Homo sapiens: one gene and its partners. The protein of the gene in region 4 interacts with the protein of the main gene of each other region in a biochemical or structural test. Each region holds a gene or a part of one and is shown on either strand. Other genes may lie near its edges.

Region 1 (3,500 bases), on a different chromosome or scaffold from region 4:
GCTCACTGAAACCTCCACCTCCTGCGTTCAAGTGATTCTCTTGCCTCAGCCTCCCAAGTAGCTGGGATTATAGGCGTCTGCCACCACGCCCAGCAAATTTTTGTGTTTTTAGTACACAAGGTTTCACCATGTTGTTCAGGCTGGTCTCGAGCTCCTGACCTCAAGTGATCCGCCTACCTTGGCCTCCCAAAGTGGTGGGATTACTGGCGTGAGCCACAGCGCCCGGGCTGATCGCTTTTGATAATTTACTTTTTCCAGGAGTTTTGCTATTAAAAATGTGGTAAATACCCTTGCACACACATCTTTGTCCCCCTTTGCCAGTTTTTCTTTCAGAGTGACACTCAGAAGTAAAAATTGTACACTCTTAGGACAACTTAGCAGTGTCAGTATACATTGTGTAAATTTTTATTTCCACCTATTTTTTCATGACATTTGGAGTATAAACTATTATTAATCTCTAATAAATCAATAAATGTCAGTTGAGATTTGGCAGTAAAAAAATGTCATCTTATTGTTTTAGTTTGCATTCTTCGATTTAGAGAGGTTGATGTGTTAATGACCAGCAGGCCGCTCTTGTCAATCCTGTTGGGCTGTATGCTGCTATATGAGAGTACAGTGCTGTCATGACTGCCCTTTTGTTATTCACAGTTACCTGTCACTGGGTAGTTGTAAGAGTTGTACAGTTGAGATGCTGAGCACATCAGAAGTGTTTTTTTGATGCTCTATTCAGCACTTCTTTTGGTATTCCCATTGAATCCAGTGAACATTTGGATGGAATACTTAGACCTTTTATCAATGTCAATGGCATCCGTTATTGGTTTTCAATATGTTTTTTTGCTTAATGATCTTGAATTAGAAGATAAAGATGTCATTCAGCCACCATATCCAGGTTGATGTAAGAAAATTTTGATTGTATAATACTTGTATTTCTTTGATGGTTCATTACAAGTGTGTATCACTAGTAAAAATGATCACTGAAAATGTCTCATTTTGGTCATAGCAAAGGGTTTTGCTAGCCTTTTGAGTTTTTAATTACGTTACATTTTAGATTAATTTCATCAAATCACTGGAATTAAGAAAACATTATCCATAGAGAATGCCACTTTGAGTGGTTTCTTTTTTCTTTTCTTTTTCTTTTTCTTTTTTTTTTTTTTTGAGACAGAGTCTGGCTTTATTGCCTAGGCTGGAGTGCAGTGGCATGAGCTCAGCTCACTGCAACCTCCACCTCCCAGGTTCAAGCAATTCTCCTGCCTCAGCCTCCCGAGTAGCTGGAATTATGGGTGAGTGCCACCACGCCTAATTTTTGTATTTTTATTAGAGACGGGGTTTCTCTGTGTTGGCCAGGCTGGTCTCGAATTCCTGACCTCAGGTGATCCACCCACCTCGATCTCTCCAAGTGTGGGATTACAGGTGTGAGCCGTGGCGCCCAGCCTGGGTGGTTTCTTTCAAGCTGTAGATGACTAGTAAGAGTCTGAGATCATTTGTACAGCTTGGGAATTTTTCTTTTATTTTTTGTTGAGATGGGGTCTCCCTTTGTCACCCAGGCTGGAGTGCAGTGGCATGATCATGGCTCACTGTAACCTCAACCTCCTGGGCTCAAGCGATCCTCTCACCTCAGTCTCCAGTGTAGCTGGGATTACAGGTACAAGCCACCACACCAGCTAATTTTTTTGTTTTTGTAGAGATGAGGTTTCACTTTGTTGCACAGGCTGGTCTCAAACTCCTGGATTCAAGTGATCCTTCTGCCTTGGCCTCCTAAAGTACTGGGATCACAGTGAGCCACTGCTCCTGGCCTGGTTCAATAAATTTTGATAAGTATATACATCTGTGTAAACCATACCCCCTTCAAGACACAATGTGTCCATCACTCCAAAAAAGCTTCCTTGAACCCCTTCCCAGTGTAGGGGAGGGAAAATAGCCTCTACCCTTCTAAGTTTTCGGTTGGGGCCCCTGTAATAAAGGGTAGATTAACAAGAGAAAAACATGTAAACTTGTTTAATATAAGTTTTATGTGACATGGGAGCCTTCATAAGGAAAGGAAGACCCGAAGAAACAGTAAAACCTGAGTGTTTTTAAATTAGGTTTGATGAAGAAGGAAGAGTTGTGGAATGTGATAGGACAGAAAGGGATATGAGCCAAGAGTAGTAAACAGGGAAAAACTTAACAAGGCCTGTTTGTTCATATTCCTCTGGGTGTTCCTCTATTTTTTTTTTTTTTAATTTTTGAGACAGGGTCTCACTCTGTTCCCCAGGCTGGAGTGCAGTGGCATGATCATAGCTCACTGCAGCCTCAACCTCTTGGGCTCAAGTGATCCTCCTGCCTCAGCCTCCTGAGCAGCTGGGACTATGGGTATGTGCCACCATGGGTGGCTGATTTTTGAATTTTTTTTGTAGAGATGGAATCTCACTGTGTTGCCCAGGCTGGCCTCAAACTCTGGGGCAGAAGTGATCCTCCTGCCTCGGCCTCCCAAAGTGCTGGGATTATAGGCATGAGTCAATGCGCCCGGCCACTCTGTCTTTTGAGATTAAGATGCTGCTATCTTCTGGGTATAGAGAGGACACCTCTCACATGAGGATCCTATGATCTGCTTCAGGGGAAGTCTTTTTTGCACCTGCTGTTTCTCAGATTCCTTCAACTTAAAATATTCAACAATGCCAAGGTGTCATATTTTGGGAGTAGCATGTTCTGAAGCCTGTCATAGTCAGTTCCCTATGACCCTGCCCCAGGTAAATTAATCTATAATTGTAGATTAGTTTTGTCAGTACTTGAACTTCATATGAATGTAATCATACAGTATGGTTTGTGCCTTTTTTGGGTCAGGTTTCTTTTTTTCCACATATCATTTTTGAGATTTATCCTTGTTGTGTGTATCAGTAATTTTTCCTTTTTATTTCTGAATATTATATACCATTTGTTTATTCATCTGTTACTAGACACTTGGGTTTTTCTAGTTTTGGGGTTTTTGTAAATAAAAATGCTGTAAACTTTCATGTGCAGGCGTTTTTGTGAGCATATATTTTCATGAATACTGAGTAAGTATTTGTGAGTGGAAGTGCTGGGTCATATAGTAAGTGTATTTTTAACTTTATAAGAAACTACCAATTTTCCGAAGTGGTTGTGATATTTTACGTTTCTCTTAGCAATGTACAATAATAGTTCCAGGCACTTCACAGCCTCGTTGAAACTTAGTGTTGTCTGTTTTTAAATTTTAGTTACCTTAGTGGGTGTGTAGTGGCACCTCATTGTGGTTATAATTTTGAATTTCACTGAGTGGAGCCTTGATAAAGAATGTTCTTGAGGTTTTCCTTAATTTTTCTACAGGATTGTAGCCATATACAATTGAAATTCATCTTTTATATTGTTAAATTTTTTCTTTAGGTGTCTTTAAGAGTGATTGAAGAGAATAATTCAAAATGCCTGAAAATCCTGCTACAGGTATACTGGATATATTGTTCTATAATTAAATTAATTATTTAAAAATGGAATCTCAAATGGGACTT
Region 2 (3,500 bases), on a different chromosome or scaffold from region 4:
CCTCTTTTTGTGATGACTTGAGAACCCAAATCCTTTCTAAAATGCAGCTCCACTACTTTTTCGAATAGCACACTATGCAGCCAGTTAGTCTCATTTTCACCAAAATTCATACTAAGACCTACCTAAAGAGTTTTAAACACTGGCAGAAAAGTGAAAAAGGCAAAACCCTTACTACAGGTATTCCTTACCAATGAGTCATTAAGCTCCCACTAAACTGCCAGCTTCTTGAAGACACACAATTTCTGACTCATGTTTATATCGCCAGTGCTAGCTCCATGCTGGCACTTGGTGGGTGCACCACTAAGTATTTGCTGAGGGAATGAATGCGTGCCAGTAATAGGACTTCTTATTTTTTCTGTATTAAATAAAATATGCATCTTTTCTTGGAAAACATTCTGAATAATAGTTGTTCTTCAAAAACAAAATATTAGCAAGATATTTTGTTAGCAAAATTAGCTAGAAGAGCAATGAATGGATTTGCCTCTTTCCCTACAAACATGTCTCATAACACCAGCTTCTAAGTTTCTGAAACTCTTACTTTAGACAATAGTTTTAAATTCAGGGCATTCACTCTATCTACCAAAATGTAGTATTTCAAGAAAATTATTGCTCAAAATTTCAGAAGACAAAAAATAATTTATTAAAGGCGAAACGGTTCTAGTCTTCAATACCAAAACACTTATCTTTTGTCAAATCACACACACACACACACACACACACACACACAACCCTGACATTCACAGATTTTGAAATTGGTAAATAATACTGAAGTAATCCATAAAAACAAGATTCTCTTTCAACATACTCCCAAAACACTAAGTCCCCCCAAAAATTACAAAGCACTTAGGGGTTACATAGTAAAGACTCTGTATGAAACTATCACTTGAGAAGATTAGGCACTGACTTCATAAGTCAGACACTTGAATGAATTTAGAAGATTTGTTTTGTCGCCAGTTTACATAAATTAGCAGAAAAAAAATCACAAAAATTTGTCTCTCAAAACAAAAGGTTTTATAAAGTATGTGCCAGGATCTCAGAGGAAAAATAATGTATACGTCCCAGGAACACAGAGTTATGTTACATGAAAATCAGTTTTAGCAATAAACTGAATAAAATTTAAAATCATCTAAAAATCAAATGGCCAAATGTTAAGTATTTGTTTGTACCAGTAAGATAGCAAGAAATTAAAGAATTATTAAAATGCCTCAACCTAGGAAAATAAAGTTTTACAAACTAAATTATAAAAGTCTGGGGGTGAGGGCAGGATCAATAAAGTACCCAAAATGATATACTAGAAAATGATATACAAGAAAAGTTAACAAAAGTATGTGTGTGTGTATATACATATACATATATGCATATAATATATATATACACACACGTATATACATATATACATACTGAGATATTTGGATATAGTACTCTTAGAGAATGATGGAGAGAAAATATTTTTTAAGTACAAAGATGTTAATGATATAATAAAAGTCATCAAATATCATGCAAGCAAATCAGCTTGCAATTGCTAAGGTGTAAGCCCATTACTCATATGAATTGAAGGTGTCAATGAACAGAATCCAAAACCTGAACCCCTGAGTTATTAAGAGCTTTAGGGAAAAAAGAAAAAAAAACTACCAAAATTTGAAATAGGAAATTTTCAACTTCAAGGTTTATCAAAATGTAATGCTACTTTCCCTAGCAAAGGGGCTTGGCTTGCTTCTTTTTCTATTGTTTCTAAAATAATCTCTAGGTCTCTAGATTTTCTTGTTTTAAAAAAGGTACGAAGAAATGTATTGTAAGCCTGGGAGGCTAACAATTAACTCTAAATTCTCTTACCTTTCCCATCCTCATATAATACAACCACCTAAACAAAACTCATCAAAAATCCTAAATATCCCACTAAAAAAAAAAAAAAAAAAAAAAAAAAAAACTAACAAAAAGATTCAAGAGATAAGAAAGGCACAGCATTATTTTTATTTGAATAACATAAATATTTCCTATTTTAAAGCATCCAGTAGTGTTTCTTCACCAACAGGAAGTGTATTTCTAGGAATTAGCCCATTTTAACAAAACTCCCTTACAAATTGGATGTCCCAAAGAGTCAGCAGTGAAGACTTTTACCTACCTTTAACATTACCCAGGAACTGTTTCAACTTGGTTTTTATTTAAACAAACTATAACATTGTTTCCTATGATTTCCATCCCTGGATACACTACTTGCTTAGGGTAGTTGAATGTAATGTGTGCATATGGCAGTAGACAATGATTTCATGTATTTATTGTACCGATACTTAATCTCTGGAATAAAATACACATAATTTACTGAAACTTACTGAAAGCAAACTGCTGAAATATGAGCTTAAAGGTGTATGAAGAAGCATAAAACTCTGCACAATTAGAGTCTGGGGAATTTCAGAACAAAATTCACTACTTGTATATTAATCAGAATAGAAATGGTTTAAGAATATATACTCTGTAGTAAAATCAAAGAAACTAAACCTAGTCATAGTAGTATATCACAAAACAATTTCACCAGAGGTCCAAAGTTCAACTTTACTACTGGGAAAAGACAAAGTTCAAACTCAAATGACAACTTTTCTCTTTGCAGAAAAATAAACAACAGGGTCATAATTAAGAAACAAGTAACTAATCGAGCCAAGCAATAGGTGAAACCAAAGATTCTTCTATAAGCGGGCAAAGTACTGACTACTAAGTACTACACTAAAACAATAAGAAACTACCTAATTGATTCAGGAAAAGCTTCAGATTAGAAACCATATTTTAAAGAGTAACTTTCAATTCTCTATTAAAGATTATAACAACAAAAAAAGGGAAAAAAAATCAAAGCTAAAGACAGTAGCTGCCAGAAAGATGTTAAGTCACCTGGCTGATAGTACTGGCTTTGGGAGGGCGACCCTTAGCACCTAAGTGAAAAGAAGGCTAGGAAGAATCAGTGCTACAAAAGCCATGTTCTACAACCCAGCTCATCCTTCTGCCATGGACTTTGTCAGAAGACAATATGAGAACATTTCCGATTAGTATTACATCTTACAAAAATGGTTAAATTTTACTCTTTCACTGTGCTAGTCTCTAAATGTCATGTTATGAATATGGTTTAATAAAAAGCAACTAGTCAAGACAAGAGAGTGCTAAGTACACTTTACAATACCTTATTAAATTGAAAAATCAATTTCTGTCACAAAGTTTAGATAAAAGCAAAAAATAAAACAATGTTTATGGCAAGTTTCTTTTTAAATTCCCTTACTCTATTTTCATCCTTTCCAAAATGAATCACAATAAAGAATCTTTGTCTCTTCTGAAAATAATATTTGTTTTTAATCAAACTCAAAAGTTCTACAGATAACCTCTTCAAATTCTTAATTTCTAGTATTTAAAGTCTGTTTAACCTGCAAAAATCTTGCTATTTTATAACAAATGTTGCTTTTAAGCAAAGCCATTTAAGAAAGCCATTTAATATAATACCTAACATGAGGCTATTAAGA
Region 3 (3,500 bases), on a different chromosome or scaffold from region 4:
TAAACCAATGAGACATGGGAACTGGCACACTTTTTCTCGAAAGCTCCAAATAGTAAATATTTTAGGCCTTGTGAGCCAGAGGGTCTCTGTCGAAGCTAGCAACTCTGTCCTTGCGGGGTGGAGGCGGCTGCAGTTGGGAGTGAGTATGGCCACCTTCGGCACAGTGGATGGCACAGGACTGGACCCTCAGTGGGAGTGTCCAGACCCCAAAATTAGAGAATTCAACCAATGGAAAAAATGGTGAAAGGGTACAAACACACGGAATATGAGCAGGTCAGTCAGCATGCTTCGTTTGTAATTAAATCCATGTGAAGTAATACAACAGGGACATAGCGTTTTCCACCTGTCAGACTGGCAAACATCAAAAAGTTTGATAGGCCAGGCGTGGCACCTCTCACCTGTGATCCCAACACTTTGGGAAGCCCAGGTGGAAGGATCACTTCAGCCTAGGAGTTCGAGACCAGCCTGGGCAACATAGTGAGATCCCACCTCTACAAAAAAACTTTAAAAAATTAGCCAGGCATGGTGACACACACCTGTAGTAGTCCCAGCTCCTCCAGAGGCTGAGATGGGAGGATCACTTGAGCCCAGGAGTTTGAGGCTGCAGTGAGCTAGGATTGCACTACTGTACTCCAGCCTGGGCAGTAGAACAAGACCCCATCTCTAAAAATAAAATAAAAAAGAAAGGTAAAACTGATTGCCCATCAGTAATAATAATAATAATAATTTTTAAAAATTAAGGTATAACACACACACAGTACAGTCTTAAGCGTACAAACAGCTTGACGGGCCTTCACATGCCCTTCTGGAGCCAATCACCCAGATCAAGATTTGGGTCCTTTCTAGGTTCTGGGGAAGTGCCATATCCCCTCCCAGTCGTTACCCCTCCCCTGTCCCCTAAGGGAGGACCCTTCCAACCTCTATCACCATCCCTGTCCTTGAACTTGACGTGGACGGAGTCACATTCAATGTTTCTTTTTCATTGCTACACAGTATTTCATGGCATAAATTTACCGCAATAGGGGCAGGCGCTGTGTCTCATGCCTGTAATCCCAGCACTTTGGGAGGCCAAGGCAGGCAGATTGCTTTGAGCTCAGGAGTTCAAGACCAGCCTGGGCAACAGGATGTAACCGTCTCTACAAAAATTCAAAAATTAGCCAAGCATTGGTGGCTTGCGCCTATAATCCCAGCTACTCGGGAGGCTGAGGCTGGAGAATTGCTTGAGCCCAAGAAAGCAGAGGTTGCAGTGAGCCAAGATCGCACCACTGCACTCCAGCCTGGGTGACAGAGTGAGACCTGTCTCAAAAAAAAAAAAAAAAAAATTACCACAATTTACTTATCCACCTGACCGTTGATAAATGTTTCTGTTGCTTGCAGTTTGGGGCTGTTATGATGAAACCACTGTGAACATTCTTATACGTGTCTTGGTGGTGATGGCCCTTTAAAAAAAAAAATCTGGAAGCAGCCTGGGCACAGTGGCTCATGTCTATCATCCCAGCACTTTGGGAGGCTGAGGCAGGAGGATGGCTTGAGCCTAGTTGTTTGAGACCAGCCTGGGCAACATAGTAAGACCCCATCTCTACAAAAAATGTAAAAGTTAGCTGGTGTAGTGGTCATGCCTGTGGGCCTAGCTCCTCAGGAGGCTGAGGTGGGAGGATCACTTGAGCTCAGGAGGTAGAGGCTGCAGTGAGCTGTGATTGCACCACTGCACTCCAGCCTGGGCGACAGAAGGAGACCTTGTCTCTGAAATTTAAAAAATCCAAGGAGGGCTGGGCGCGGTGGCTCACGCCTGTAATCCCACCACTTTGGGAGGCCGAGGCAGGCGGATCAAGAGGTCAGGAGATCGAGACCATCCTGGCTAACACGGTGAAACCCTCTCTCTACTAAAAATACAAAAAAATTAGCCAGGCGTGGTGGTGGGCACCTGTAGTCCCAGCTACTCGGGAGGCTGAGGCAGGAGAGTGGCGTGAACCCGGGAGGCGGAGGCTGCAGTGAGCCGAGATCGCGCCGCTGCACTCCAGCCTGGGTGACAGAGTGAGACTCCATCTCAAAAAAAAAAAAAAAAAAAAAAAAAAATCCAAGGGCAAGCAGAGGCCCTGTGCCGGCGTTTTCTGCGGTTTAGTAAATTGCTATGTCAGTGGATAAATGCTGCTGTGAAGTAAAACTGTAACGTTATTGACATTAGTGCTTCGTTGCCTGCCTCTGCGTAAGGATTATGTGATTCGTGGAAATCTTCTAAGAAGAAATGGCCTATTTTTAAAGGGATTCAGGTATCGTTGGTTCCGGGGGAAACGTTCAGCAGAATAATAACGATACCTCACACCGCCTTCCAAGACTCCTGACTTCAATTCTCAGACGCGTTTCAAGAAGCAGCTTGATACCCTGCGGAGAGCCTCTGCGAGCTGACATGGGGGTCCCTGTTTGCCAGTGAACAGGCACCGTGATCCCCGTTTGAGTCCCTGAGGCACGCAGAGGCTCTTGGCTCTTCGTAGGAGAGTTCTCGATCTTTGAAAAATGTTTCTCCTCCTTCTTAAAGGACGGCCTTTTACCGGGCCCTGTTCCGAGTGTTCTGAGCCCGGGGAGGTCTTAGACTGGCGAAGAGCATGACCTAGTGGGGAAAGGACCCAGCTCCGGTACAAGCAGAAGGCCGTCTGTGCGCCGGGGACGGGTCACCGTGTCTCCTCACTCATTTTATGTGGAAGTTTGCTGTAATTTTGTCTTGCTCTGTTGCCCAGGCTGGAGTGCAATGGTGCCATCATAGCTCACTGCAGCCTCAGCCTCCTGGGTTCAAGCAATCCTGTCACCTCAGCCTCCCAAGTAGCTGCGACTACAGGCATGTGACACCATGACCGGCTAATTTTTTTATTTTTTGTAGAGATGAGGGTCTTGCTATGTTGCCCAGGCTGGTCTCGAACTCCTAGACTCAAACTATCCTCCAGCCTCAGCCTCCCAAAGTTCTGGGATTACAGATGTGAGCCACCGTGCCCAGCCCTGTATCTTTCTTAAGTAATTTGTACATATATACATATTATTTTTAAAAAATTATATATGTAATTATATGTATAATTATATATTTATATATAATTGTATATAATATGTATAATTATATTTGTATAATATCTATTTATATAATTTATATATATAATTTAGTAATTATATATATACAGTTCTATTTTCTTTGACACAGAGTCTCACTCTTGTTGCCCAGGCTGGAGTGCAGTAGTGTGATCTCAACTCGCTGCAACCTCCACCTCGCGGGTTCAGGCAATTCTCCTGCCTCAGCCTGCTGAGTAGCTGGAATAACAGGTGTGTGCCACCATGCCCAGCTAATTTTGTATTTTTAGTAGAGATAGGGTTTCACCATGTTGGCCAGGCTGGTCTCGAACCCCTGACCTCAGGGGATCCGCCCGCCTCAGCCTCCCAAAGTGCTAGGATGACAGGCATGAGCCACCGTGCCCAGCTGTAATTTTAAAATATATTTTAAAGATCAACCTTATGTC
Region 4 (4,141 bases):
AATTCCAATAGAAATCTAAAGGAAATTAGATTTCTCCCTTTTCTCACATCATAATGTAGTTCCTTGTTTTTGACTTTTACATTGGTGGAACACTATAGTATGTAATCTTTTTGTTGGTCTTGTGGTACCTAACCAAATGGTTTTGATGTTAATTCACCTTATTGCAGACAGTACTTTATTCATTCCCTTTGCTGTAAAAATTCATTATGTGAATATCTGCTTATTTATTAACCTATTATTAATGAAATTATAGATTATTTCCGATTTTAAGATATCATAAACAGTTGAGTGAGTTATTCCAAAACAATCAGTTTGATCATAGCCTACTCTGCATATAATCACATAATATTTCCTCTTAGGTTTGTGAGAAATACCAAAATCCTTAGGTTATCTTGTCCCTTCGTCTTTAGCTGATTCTCCACTGTCATCTCCTGCCTGGCATCTCCTACCCCTTCTTTTACCACCCTGTGATCTATTAAAATTGGTCTATCTGCATTTTCCCAGGACAGTATCACAGAGGACTGGGTGACTAACTATTGGAAATTAACCCTCTGACTCTTAGCTCATTCTACATTCCATTTCCTGTCGTACATTCAAGGTTCAAATTTTCAGGTGAGACACCAGAAGACATGATGTTGGTGGATGGCAAGTGGCACTTCAAGTCCCTCATCGCCATCAGGGGAGACATGGTTGGGTGAAGGTAATTGTTCCCTGCCATGTCAGGAGACATACAGCAAGGTGAATACCCCAAACTTCTCACACCACAGACTGAGATAGTATTATCCTTGGATTACTTACCTCACATGGTTCTAAAAAGCTGTTTTTGCAAAGACAATAATCAAGTTTCTACACATAATTTTTCAACACACCACCAATGATACCTTCAAATATACCCTACAGGTTTTAGAGGAATGCGTGTTCATCACACTTGGAACTATGATGTAATGACAATTCTCTGGGCACAAGCTATCAGCTCACAGTGTCCAGGTAGGACTGGACCTGGTACTCCTGGCCAAGGCTGAATCCTATGTGATGAAACGTCTTCCTTTCTATTCCCTTAGTTAACTCTTTCTCATATTTCTAAACCACATGTTGTGGTACCTTCTCTCTAAAACCTGTCTTGAAACACCCCCAGTTCACATGGAGATATCATTTCTGTGTCCTGCATACAGAGCTCAAATTTTAAAAATAGCACTCAAAACACGGACTAAAAATTTCCTTTTCTGTTTGGGGATCAGGGCAGCCTCAGGAGAATGTAATTTGCAGTAAGTAATTCTAGATGAAATAATGTTTCATAAGTTGATAAAAAATGCCCTTAAAGAGAGCTGTGTTCCATACACACTCACCTGTCTGATAAATGACCGCCTAGGATGCCTCCCACCATCATTCCAGCCATGAATACAAATTTAGCCACTGAAGTCAGTGATTGAGAGTCACATACCAGATCCCACTGGAAGAGAAGGAAGCCAGCACATCAATGCTTATTACCCCTCAGTGTAACTTGATCAAAACTTCTTAGCATGATCTGCAAGTTTCCTAATATTAAGTCTCTAACTTCCTCTGTGGCTTCCTTTCTCAGCATTACCTGACCTTTGTTATTCAGGTCTCAACTTAAACATAACTTTCTCTTGGAAGACTTTCCTAAACCTATAGGTTTTTATTTCATACTAAATGGTTCTCAAACATGACCACATGGTGCAATCACTTGAAGACCTTTAAAAACTTTTAGAAACCTAAATTTCCCTCTTAGACCTTCTCATATGATTGTTTTAGGGTATACTCTGGGCATGGAGGCTTTTCTCAATTTCCCAGATATTTCTAATTTGCAATGACAGGCTGAGCATCACTGACCTAGCAGAACATTTTAACATATTATATATAAATGCTTGTTTAAACTTTGGTCTCCCTGTGACTTAAAGCATTATAATAGCAGGATGCCTTCTACTTTGGAATTCATTACTCAAAATGTGTAGGTGTCAGACATTTAATAAAGAAGCAATTAGTATTTGCTGAAAGAATGAAGACTAAGGACCTACATGTGACTGAAGGCTGGAAGCATGATTATTACTTGTGTTATTCTAAACACCCAGGTCACATACTCATGAGACGAGAACAGAGCCTCTTACCTCAGTCACGATGGTGGATGAGAAGGAGATTCTGTCATACACCCAGCCATCCACACAGGGCTCCATGTCTGCGTCACTTGTGTTGGGGAAGGTCCCATTCAGGTGAAGGAGCTGCCACTGAGGATGAACAAAGCGACGACACTTCTCTGGCCTCATGTTTGAGTCCAGTGGGATGGAGATTCTCAAGAGTGCATCTTGGCTGAGGGCCCCAGTGTCATTGTCAGAGACAGTGTCATTGTCCAGGATGTGGACCCAGCAGCGATGGCCAGGTATGAATGCAGTGAAGTTCTCCAGCATAAAATGAAGGTATGTAGCAACAGCAAAGATTGAGAGAAAAACAGTCTGAAGGATCTGGAATCTCCACAGGTCACCAGCGTGACCCAGGAGGTCCTGAAAGGCCATTGAGGTTGAACAGTTGATCCTCAAGTAGAGGCAAAATGACTGTATCCAGAGAGGTTCAAAGAGGGAAAATGTTTTCTTTCCCTAAGTCACACTAAATGTGTTTTGATCCTGACCCCACTCTCTTCTTGACGACTGTGCTTCCCCTCTGCAGCAGGACCGTGGAAACAGTTTCCTCAAGTCGTTTTGGGGTCAGATAGGTAGCCGTTTTCTCTAAAGTCACGTAAGAAATAATTTGCTCAGATACTCCCAGTCGTTTACAATGAAATGTGTTTAAAATTCTACTTTTTCATGTCTTTAGTAGCTCCCAAAGTCAGCACTGGACTTTGGTCTACACTTTTCTGTAAACAAACTAAAATAAACCTGCTACATGGTATGCGGTCATTCCAGGAAGCATAATTTTGGCGACTCAAAGGTGAGGTGCTTTTTTTACTTCTCTGAAAACAACAGAAGGCAAGTTTTTCCTTGTTAAGTACCAATTTTTGATTAAGAGTTAATCTAAAAAAGTCGAAGTTAAACTAAAATAAGGGTACTGTGGTACAATCCTTTCATTTTGGTGACTGATGTTCTCCTTCATGTCAAATCACACCACAAATTCATGCTGGAAATACATTGCTTGAAATGTGGACAGAATAGATGGTGATGAAAAGCAGAGGAGTAAGCTCATATGGAGGTTTACTTTTACTGGCTTATTGATTTTTCAGATAGTATTTGTGAAGACCTTTTCCATGCTAGTTCCTAAAGTAACGTGTGTGACAAGTTCAAGGATCTTATAGTTGAGTAAGTAAGAGAGAGTACATAAACAATTGCACTCCAACATTATAAATATTATGTGAGATGCACTATGTGCTGTGGAAGAATTGGAGGCAAAATATGGGAGAAAATGTCACCTTGATTAGGACTAAAATTTCTATTAAAATTTAAACCTCCTTGAAGTATAATTCATTTACCATACAATTTACCCTTTTAAAGTATACAATTGAATGTGTTTTGATCATTCAAAGAGTTGTGCAATCATCACTACTATATCGTTACAGAGCATTTTAATCACCACATAGGAAACCATACCCATTAGCAGTAACTCTCCATTTTTATTCACACATCCCACTTAGCAACCGCTAATTTACTTTCTGATTCTAAGGATTTGCCTATTGTGGACATTTGATTTATACATTGAATCATAAAATACTTGACTTTGTATATCTGGCTTAATTCATTTAACATAATGTTTCTTTTTCTTTTTTTTAAATTATACTTCAAGTTTTAGGGTACATGTACACAACGTGCAGGTTTGTTACATATGTATACATGTGCCATATTGGTGTGCTGCACCCATTAACTCATCATTTAGCATTAGGTATATCTCCTAATGCTATCCCTCCCCCCTACCCCCACCTAACAACAGTCCCTGGTGTGTGATGTTCCCCTTCCTGTGTCCATGTGTTCTCATTGTTCAATTCCCACCTATGAGTGAGAACATGTGGTGTTTGGTTTTTTGTCCTTGCGATAGGTTGCTGAGAATGATGGTTTCCAGCTTCATCCATGTCCCTACAAAGGATGTGAACTCATCATTTTTTATGGCTGCATAGTATTCCATGGTATATATGTGCCACATT

What was found.
Region 1: the proteins of SLC22A9 (region 4) and PATJ interact in a test that uses a peptide from one of them, tested with the Homo sapiens proteins (one large-scale study listed by IntAct).
Region 2: the proteins of SLC22A9 (region 4) and MAGI3 interact in a test that uses a peptide from one of them, tested with the Homo sapiens proteins (one large-scale study listed by IntAct).
Region 3: the proteins of SLC22A9 (region 4) and CARD11 interact in a test that uses a peptide from one of them, tested with the Homo sapiens proteins (one large-scale study listed by IntAct).

Annotation. Positions count from the first base shown.
Region 1 is NC_000001.11:61,759,480-61,762,979, forward strand, and holds part of PATJ (inaD-like protein), read left to right. Parts: intron 1-3,378; 5' UTR 3,379-3,413; coding exon 3,414-3,435; intron 3,436-3,500.
Region 2 is NC_000001.11:113,393,515-113,397,014, reverse strand, and holds part of MAGI3 (membrane-associated guanylate kinase, WW and PDZ domain-containing protein 3), read right to left. Parts: intron 1-3,500.
Region 3 is NC_000007.14:3,033,868-3,037,367, reverse strand, and holds part of CARD11 (caspase recruitment domain-containing protein 11), read left to right. Parts: intron 1-3,500. UniProt on the Homo sapiens protein: Adapter protein that plays a key role in adaptive immune response by transducing the activation of NF-kappa-B downstream of T-cell receptor (TCR) and B-cell receptor (BCR) engagement.
Region 4 is NC_000011.10:63,368,444-63,372,584, reverse strand, and holds the start of SLC22A9 (organic anion transporter 7), read right to left. Parts: upstream 2,801-4,141; 5' UTR 2,529-2,800; coding exon 2,127-2,528; intron 1,451-2,126; coding exon 1,347-1,450; intron 1-1,346. UniProt on the Homo sapiens protein: Sodium-independent organic anion transporter, exhibits high specificity for sulfated conjugates of xenobiotics and steroid hormones such as estrone 3-sulfate (E1S) and dehydroepiandrosterone sulfate (DHEAS).